2 linked regions of the Homo sapiens genome follow. The protein of the gene in region 1 interacts with the protein of each later gene in a pairwise test. Each region holds a gene or a part of one and is shown in the gene's direction. Other genes may lie near its edges.

Region 1 (3,821 bases):
ATTATGTTCCATTCTGGTCCCCACATTTTAAGTTGTAAAGTAGACCAGCCAGAATTCATTCATGGGCACATAATCTAAGATATAAAATAGTGAGGAAACTTGAAACCATGCCATTTGAGACACACTTAAAGAACCCAAAGATGTTTGTTTTAGAAAAGTAAAGACTCAGGGCTGTCATCACATGTTTAATAGACTCTCGTTTGGCAGAGGGTCAGATTCTCCCTGTGTGGCCTTAGAAGGTAAAACAAAAAGTGGGTTAGATATTTTCAAGACAACAGATTTTAAGAGTAGGTCAAGATATTATCAAAAAGACAGATTCTGGCTCTATGTGAGGACATTCCCAACTCTACCAACTAAACAGGTATGGGCAAAAAAAACAAAGAAACAACACTGAAGTGAATGGCTGTGCAGGACTTCTGACTCAAAGAAGAGAGGTAAACAGCAACACTTTGTTATTACTAATCTGTGCATTTATACACGTTACTTTTTACAAGGTGCTTTCACACATCATTGGGCTAGCTGGTATTTTTACACAGGAGGAAGCTCACCCAGAGTCTTAGCTGTCAAATCACAACACTTTCTTTCTGTAACACTGTTCTTTCTAAAACAAAGCTAATGGAACATAAAGCAAATCTGTTAGAACCCCCATTTGCACTCCCCCAGGGTTCCAGGAACAATAAAGAAGAAGATACTAGTGAAAATGTGGTAAAAACGATGTTTGTGGAAGCAAAGGAAAAACTCCAAAAATAGAATAGCTTACCTTGTCCATAAATGATTGAAAGATGAAGTGAATAAAGGACAGGAACTCTTCGTCAACAAAAACCATGTTGATAGAAGAGTGAAAAATTAGAAATTATTGGTAACAAATTAAGAATAGCTGGAAACAGAATAAATACAGCTTGTGAGATTAGTTTTCCTTGTTCATACATGTATTCAACAGTTATTATTAGAACACTTAGTATGTCTTGGCACTGTGCTAGGCTCTAGGGTTACAGCAAGAAACAATGTATAGGCCAGGTGTGGTGGCTAACACCTGTAATCCCAGCACTTTGGGAGGCTGAGGCCAGTGGATCACCTGAGGTAGAAGTTCGAGACCAGGCTAACATGGCAAAACCCTGTCTCTACTGAAAATACAAAAATTAACTGGGTGTGGTGGCACGTGCTTATAGTCCCAGCTACTGAGGAGCCTGAGGCAAGAGAATCACTTGAACCAAGAGGCGGAGGTTGCAGTGAGCCAAGATGGCACTGCTGCACTCCAGCCTGGGTGACAGAGCGAGACTCCATTTCAAAAAAAAAAAAAGAAAAGAAACAATATGTAGACATGGCCTCCACCTCGCTGGATCTTCAGACTTATACAGGAAACAAACATTAAAGTATACAAATTCTTTTTTTTTTGAGATGGAGAGATGGATGGAGTCTTGCTCTGTTGCCCAGGCTGGAGTGCAGTGGTGCAATCTTGGCTCACTGCAGCCTCCACCTCCTGGGTTCAAGCGATTCTCCTGCCTCGGTCCCCTAAGTAGCTGGGACTACAGATGTGCTCCACTATGCCCGGCTAATTTTTGTATGTTTTGGTAGAGGTGGGGTTTCGCCACATTGGCCAGGCTGGTCTCGAGCTCCTGGCCTCAGGTCATCCACCCACCCCGGCCTCCCAAAGTGCTGGGATTACAGGTGTGAGCCACTACGCCCGGCCCCTACAAATTCTTAATTATAAACTCTGGCAGGTGTCATGAAGAAAAAATACAGAGTGCTGTGTGAATGCCCAACATAGGACCCTAACTTAGTGCAGACAGTCATGGAAAGGTTCATTTATTAAACCTAGATTTGCCGTGATTTTAGTCCTAGAAGATGAGGTGACCACGTGCCCAACTCTGTCCTTATAGTGCTGACCCACAACCATGTGCTCTTCCCCTTTTAACCCTGGCCTTACGTGGGCCAAAACGCTTTTCCTTGGTTTTTCCTTGCATAGCTGAAACAGGCTGGCATTTGAAAACAAAAAGTATTTAGTACCAAAGAACAAAAGGAAAGTAGTGTTGACACTAGTGTTAAGGTGATCTCATCTTGAGAAAAGTTGTACTAATTATGATTAGTTTTAAATGTCCAGTTTGCCGTGCTTAGAACATATAGCGAGAGGGGAAGAGGTGGTGGTGGGGAGAAAAAACCATAGCGAATTCACTTATTTAGAGAAATGTTATTGAACATCCTATGTGCCAGGCACTGCACTGGGCTCTGGAGACAGAGTGATAAACAAATGACTGCTGAATTAGGATAGCCTTCCTATTCTGATAATGCTCTGAGCCCCAAACCATCCCTTAACAAAAAAATTCTTTTTTAAAACTCCAGTAAGTCTCTTGTACATGCTTTTTTAGATAAGAACTTTGGCAGTATCCAGCATAGTCAACACATAATATCCCACCCACACTAGCTAAGTCAAACCTGAAGGAGAGGTTGCCTGGTTTAGTATCCCACCCTAAAACCAAGGATCAGAGAAAGAAAGGGTGAGTAATTGCTGTGATTTCCTTCTTTGCCAATAAATAGACCCCTTTTCTGTTTTTAGGAGCATGGCGATAAGAGTGTACAATTTGATGGGACTTTTCGATGGGGTGTGGTAGTCAGGAATAACTATCTACTTTTTGTAGCTAACTTAGAAATCATTTTGCAGTAGGTTGGGTGCGGTGGCTCACGCCTGTAATCCCAGCACTTTGGGAGGTGGAGGCGGGCAGATCACAAGGTCAGGAGTTCGAGACCAGCCTGGCCAATATGGTGAACCACCATCTCTATTAAAAATACAAAAAATAGCCAGGCATGGTGGCATGCCCCTGTAGTCCCAGCTACTCAGGAGGCTGAGGTGGGAGAATCGCTTGAACTGAGAAGGCGGAAGTTGCAGTGAGCCGAGATTGCGCCACTACACTCCAGCCTAGGCGACAGAGCGAGACTCCGTCTCAAAAAAAAAAAAGAAAAAAATCATTTTGCAGCGTATTGGTTTCCAATGCTACTTTAATCATCCTTGATACCTTCCTTTTTGTTACTTTCCTCCTATGTCCTGACTTATAATTAATCACCAGTTCTTTTCTGTCCTATCCTAAAGATCCCTTGAAATACAACTAAGTTCACTGTTTAGTTCAGCTGACTTTTTGTTTTCCATAATAAGACTTTCACCGTGAAAGATAGTGGTGGTTTTGCATCCTGGCATTATCTCATCAAGACCCAGTCTCACACAGTTCACAGAATGGCTACTTTGAGTAGCTCTAGTCTAAGCCACTGTCATCTCCCCTAGTTGTTAGTCTGCGGTGGGAGGGTGCTTTCTAAATCACACAGTAGCCAGAGGGAATTTTTTTTTTTTTTTTTTTTTTGAGACGGAGTCTCGCTAGGCTGGAGTGCAGTGGCGTGATCTCGACTCACTGCAAGCTCCGCCTCCCGGGTTCACGCCATTCTCCTGCGTCAGCCTCCTGAGTAGCTGGGACTACAGGCACCCGCCACCACACCCAGCTAATTTTTTGTATTTTTAGTAGAGACGGGGTTTCGCTGTGTTAGCCAGGGTGGTCTCGATCTCCTGACCTCGTGAACCGCCTGCCTTGGCCTCCCAAAGTGCTGGGATTACAGACGTGAGCCATGGTGCCCGGCCACCAGAGGGAATTTTTTTTAATGCAGATATAATGTTACTGTCTTGTGGAATTCCTTTAGTAGCTTAAACTCACTCAAAGGATGAATCCAAAATCCTAGCCAGGACCTGTCTCAACACAGTGTTGGAAAGCAGTGTAACAGAGAGTAGTATCTCCCAAGGTGTAATTTCATTTTATTATTATTTTTATTTATTTTTTGAG
Region 2 (3,821 bases), on another chromosome or scaffold:
CAAAAAATATTTACTGAATGAACAGTAGAATCTCAACTTAAAATAAACAGAATCTGTCCCCCTCCTCATGTGAGGGATGAGAAGGAAAGGACAGTGAGAGGAACGGAAGAGTGGGAGCTCACAATAAACACCATCCATTTTTAATTCTTTTTCTTATGTTTCAAATATTTATTGGGGGTGCTGGGGACATGGCAGGAACCGAGATATTACCAGTCCCTGAACTCAGGTAACTGATAGAATTTGAGGGAGAGAGATAGATAAACAAACATATAAATATGTCGTTTAATACAAGCTGTGTCTTGAAGAAAAGGAGGTAGGGAGCGTGTGTGTGTGTGTGTAAAATCCAGTTTAGGGGCGTAGGTTGCTTTCTCTGGGGAAAGTAGCTGAGCTGAGACGTGGAGGAGAAGGGGTTAGCTGGTGAGAGGGGCTTTGGGGTGGGGGAGAGGCGTTCCTAGCCCAGGAAACGGCTTATGCAAATAGCTGTGGAGGGTGAGAGGTTTTCTGAGTCCATCCTAATGAGGGCAATGAGGAACCCTCAGAGGGTTTTCATGTTCTGTTTGCTTTTTTGAAGATTTTATTGTTGTTTTTGCTTTTGACAAGAACACACACACACACACACACACACACACACACACACACACACACACACAATTAAAAAGTAATCCAAACTATAGAGACAAGATATGGCTTTAGCATTCCTTCCCAGAGGCAGTCACTGGTGCCAGTAGCTTGCTTCCTTCCTGGGAATTTTCTACGCATATACAAGTGTATATTCTACACATGAGTAAAATCAATGCCTCATTTTGTTTATTAATTCATAATTATAATACTTATTATTTTTGAGATGGAGTCTCACTCTGCCTCCCAGGCTGGAGTGCACTGGCATAATCTCGGCTCACTGCAACCTCCACCTCCCAGGTTCCAGAGGGTCTCCTGCCTCCGCTTCCCAAGTAGCTGGGATTACAGGCATGCACCACCATGCCTGGCTAATTTTTGTATTTTTATTTTATTGTATTTTTATTTTTAAATTTACTTTATTATTATGACTCTTTTTTTGAGATGGAGTTTCGCTCTTGTTGCCCAGGCTGGAGTGCAATGGCGTGATCTCGGCTCACTGCAACCTCTGCCTCCCGGGTTCAAGTGATTCTCCTGCCTCAGCCTCTGGAGTAGCTGGGATTACAGGCGCCCACCACCACGCCTGCCTAATTTTGTATTTTTAGTAGAGACAGGGTTTTGCCATGTTGGCCAGGCTGGTCTTGAACTCTTGACCTCAGGTGATCCATCTGCCTCGGCCTCCCAAAGTGCTGGCATTACAGGCGTGAGCAACTGCACCTGGCCTATTTATTGTTATTATTGAGACAAGGTCTTCCTCTATTGCCTAGGCTGGTGTGCGGTGGCATGCTCATAGCTCACTGCAGTCTCCAAATCCTGGGCTCCAGTGATCCTCCTGCCTCAGCCTCCTGAGTAGCTGAGACTACAGGTGCGGACCACCATGCCTGACCAATTTTTGTATTTTTTTTTTTGTGGAGACAGCGTTTTGCCATGTTACCCAGGCTGGTCTCGAACTCCTGGGCTCAAGCAATCTGCCCACCTTGACCTCCCAAAGTGCTGAGATTATAGGTGTGAGACACAGCACCTGGCCATCTGCATTGTTTTAAAAATCACAAATGGTTGCGAGGTATACATACTGCCCAGCACCATACTTGTTTCCTTTGAATATATAAATATTATAATTTTATAATATTTATAATATATAATAACACAAATAATAATAAATATATATGGTTTGGTCATATACAATATATAAAATAACATTCACAAACACTTATTGTCAAAGTGCAATTAAATGGGAAAAAAAGAAAAACATTTGGCCAGGTGTGGTGGCTCATGTCTGTAGTCCTAGCACTTTGGGAGGCTGAGGTGGGAAGATCACTTGAGCCCAGGAGTTGGAGGCTGCAGTGAGCTATGGCAACGCCGCTGCACTCCGGCCTGGATGACAGAGGGAGACCTTGTCTCTTAAAAAACCCCAAAAAACAAATCTGATTCTCTGACGCATATATAATAAGCACAGGTCAAAGATTTATTTAAGTCATGAATGAAGGAACCAGCTGTTTCAAAGGAGAATTTGGGCCGGGTGCAGTGGCTCACGCCTGTAATCCCAGCACTTTGGGAGGCTGAGGTGGGTGGATCACGAGGTCAAGAGATTGAGACCATCCTGGCCAACATGGTGAAACCCCGACTCTACTAAAAATACAAAAATTAGCTGGGCGTGGTGGCGGGTGCCTGAGGTCAGGAGTTCGAGACCAGCTTGGCTAACAATGGTGAAACCTTGTCTTTACTAAGAATACAAAAAATTAGCTGGGTGTGGTGGCTCATGCCTGTAATCCCAGCTACTTGGGAAGCTGAGGCAGGAGAATAACTTGAACCCAGGAGGTGGAGTTTGCAGCAAGCCGAGATTGTGCCACTGCACTCCAGCCTGGGCGACAGAACAAGACTCCATTAAAAAAAAAAAAAAGGAGAATTTGATGAACAGAAGTTGATAGGTTTAGTCAGGAAAGACGGGCTGGAGAAAATTTGCCAGGTTAGATACAAAACTGGTTAAAGACCTACAGGACAATACAACTGTAACCTTTGAGGTTACCTTTTCTACCAGAGAGAAATCATTTGCAACCAAACTTCCTGGGGTTACCATTTACCTTGTCGAAGTCTAGACTCTAATCAATAATGAATAACAGACCGGGTGTAGTGGCTGACGCCTGTAATCCCAGCACTTTGGGAAGCCGAGGCAGGCGGATCACGAGGTCAGGAGTTCGAGACCAGCCTGGCCAACATGGTGAAACCCCGTCTCTACTAAAAATACAAAAATTAGCCGGGCATGGTGGCGCATGCCTGTAATCCCAGCTCCTCAGGAGGCTGAGGCAGGAGAATCGCTTGAACCCAGGAGGCAGAAGTTGCAGTGAGCCGAGATCGCGCCACTGCACTTTAGCCTGGGCGACAGAGCAAGACTCTGTCTCAAAAAAAAAAAAAAAAAAAAAGAATAGTAAATCAAATACAGGTACAGTCCCTTAGAATAGGGTCCCCAACCCCCGGTTTGTAGTCTGTTAGGCATGGGGTTGCACAGCTGGTGAGCAAGCATTACTGCCTGAGCCCCGCCTCCTGTCAGATCAGCGGTGGCTCTAGACTCTCACAGGAACGTGAACCCTATTGTGAACTGCACGTGCGAGAGATCTAGGTTGTACACTCCTTATGAAAATCTAAGGCACTGCCCACTCCCATCCATGGAAAAATTATCTTCTACGAAACCAGTTTTTGGTGCCAAAAAGGTTGAGGACTGCTGCCTTGGAATATGAAGCAAACTTTGGGTGGGTCTGTTAGACAAGACTCCCAGATGACTTGGAAATGGCATGCTGTCAGCTTTTTTTGTCTTATTGCCGAGCCTAGAACTTTTTTTAATTTTTATTTTTTTTGAGATGAAGTCTTGCTCTTGTCTCCCAGGCTGGAGTGCAGTGGCACGATCTGGGCTCACTGCAACCTCTGCCTCCCGGGCTCAAGCGATTCTCCTGCCTCAGCCTCCAGAGTAGCTGGGATTACAGGCGCCTGCCACCACGCCCGGATAATTTTTGTATTTTAGTTGAGACGTTTCACCATGTTGGCCAGGCTGGTCTCGAACTCCCGACCTCAGGTGATCCGCCTGCTTTGGCCTCCCAAAGTGCTGGGATTGCAGATGTGAGCCACCACACCTGGCCCCTAGAACAATTTTTTAAAACTATATAATGGAGATCTTTTAAAATCAGTTCAGAGAGCAGCCTTATGTTTTTTTT

Evidence for each region.
Region 2: the proteins of SZT2 (region 1) and CRX interact in binary tests that used the Homo sapiens proteins (3 or more experiments, as listed by UniProt).

Annotation. Positions count from the first base shown.
Region 1 is NC_000001.11:43,396,139-43,399,959, forward strand, and holds part of SZT2 (KICSTOR complex protein SZT2), read left to right. Parts: intron 1-3,821.
Region 2 is NC_000019.10:47,828,293-47,832,113, forward strand, and holds part of CRX (cone-rod homeobox protein), read left to right. Parts: intron 1-3,821. UniProt on the Homo sapiens protein: Transcription factor that binds and transactivates the sequence 5'-TAATC[CA]-3' which is found upstream of several photoreceptor-specific genes, including the opsin genes.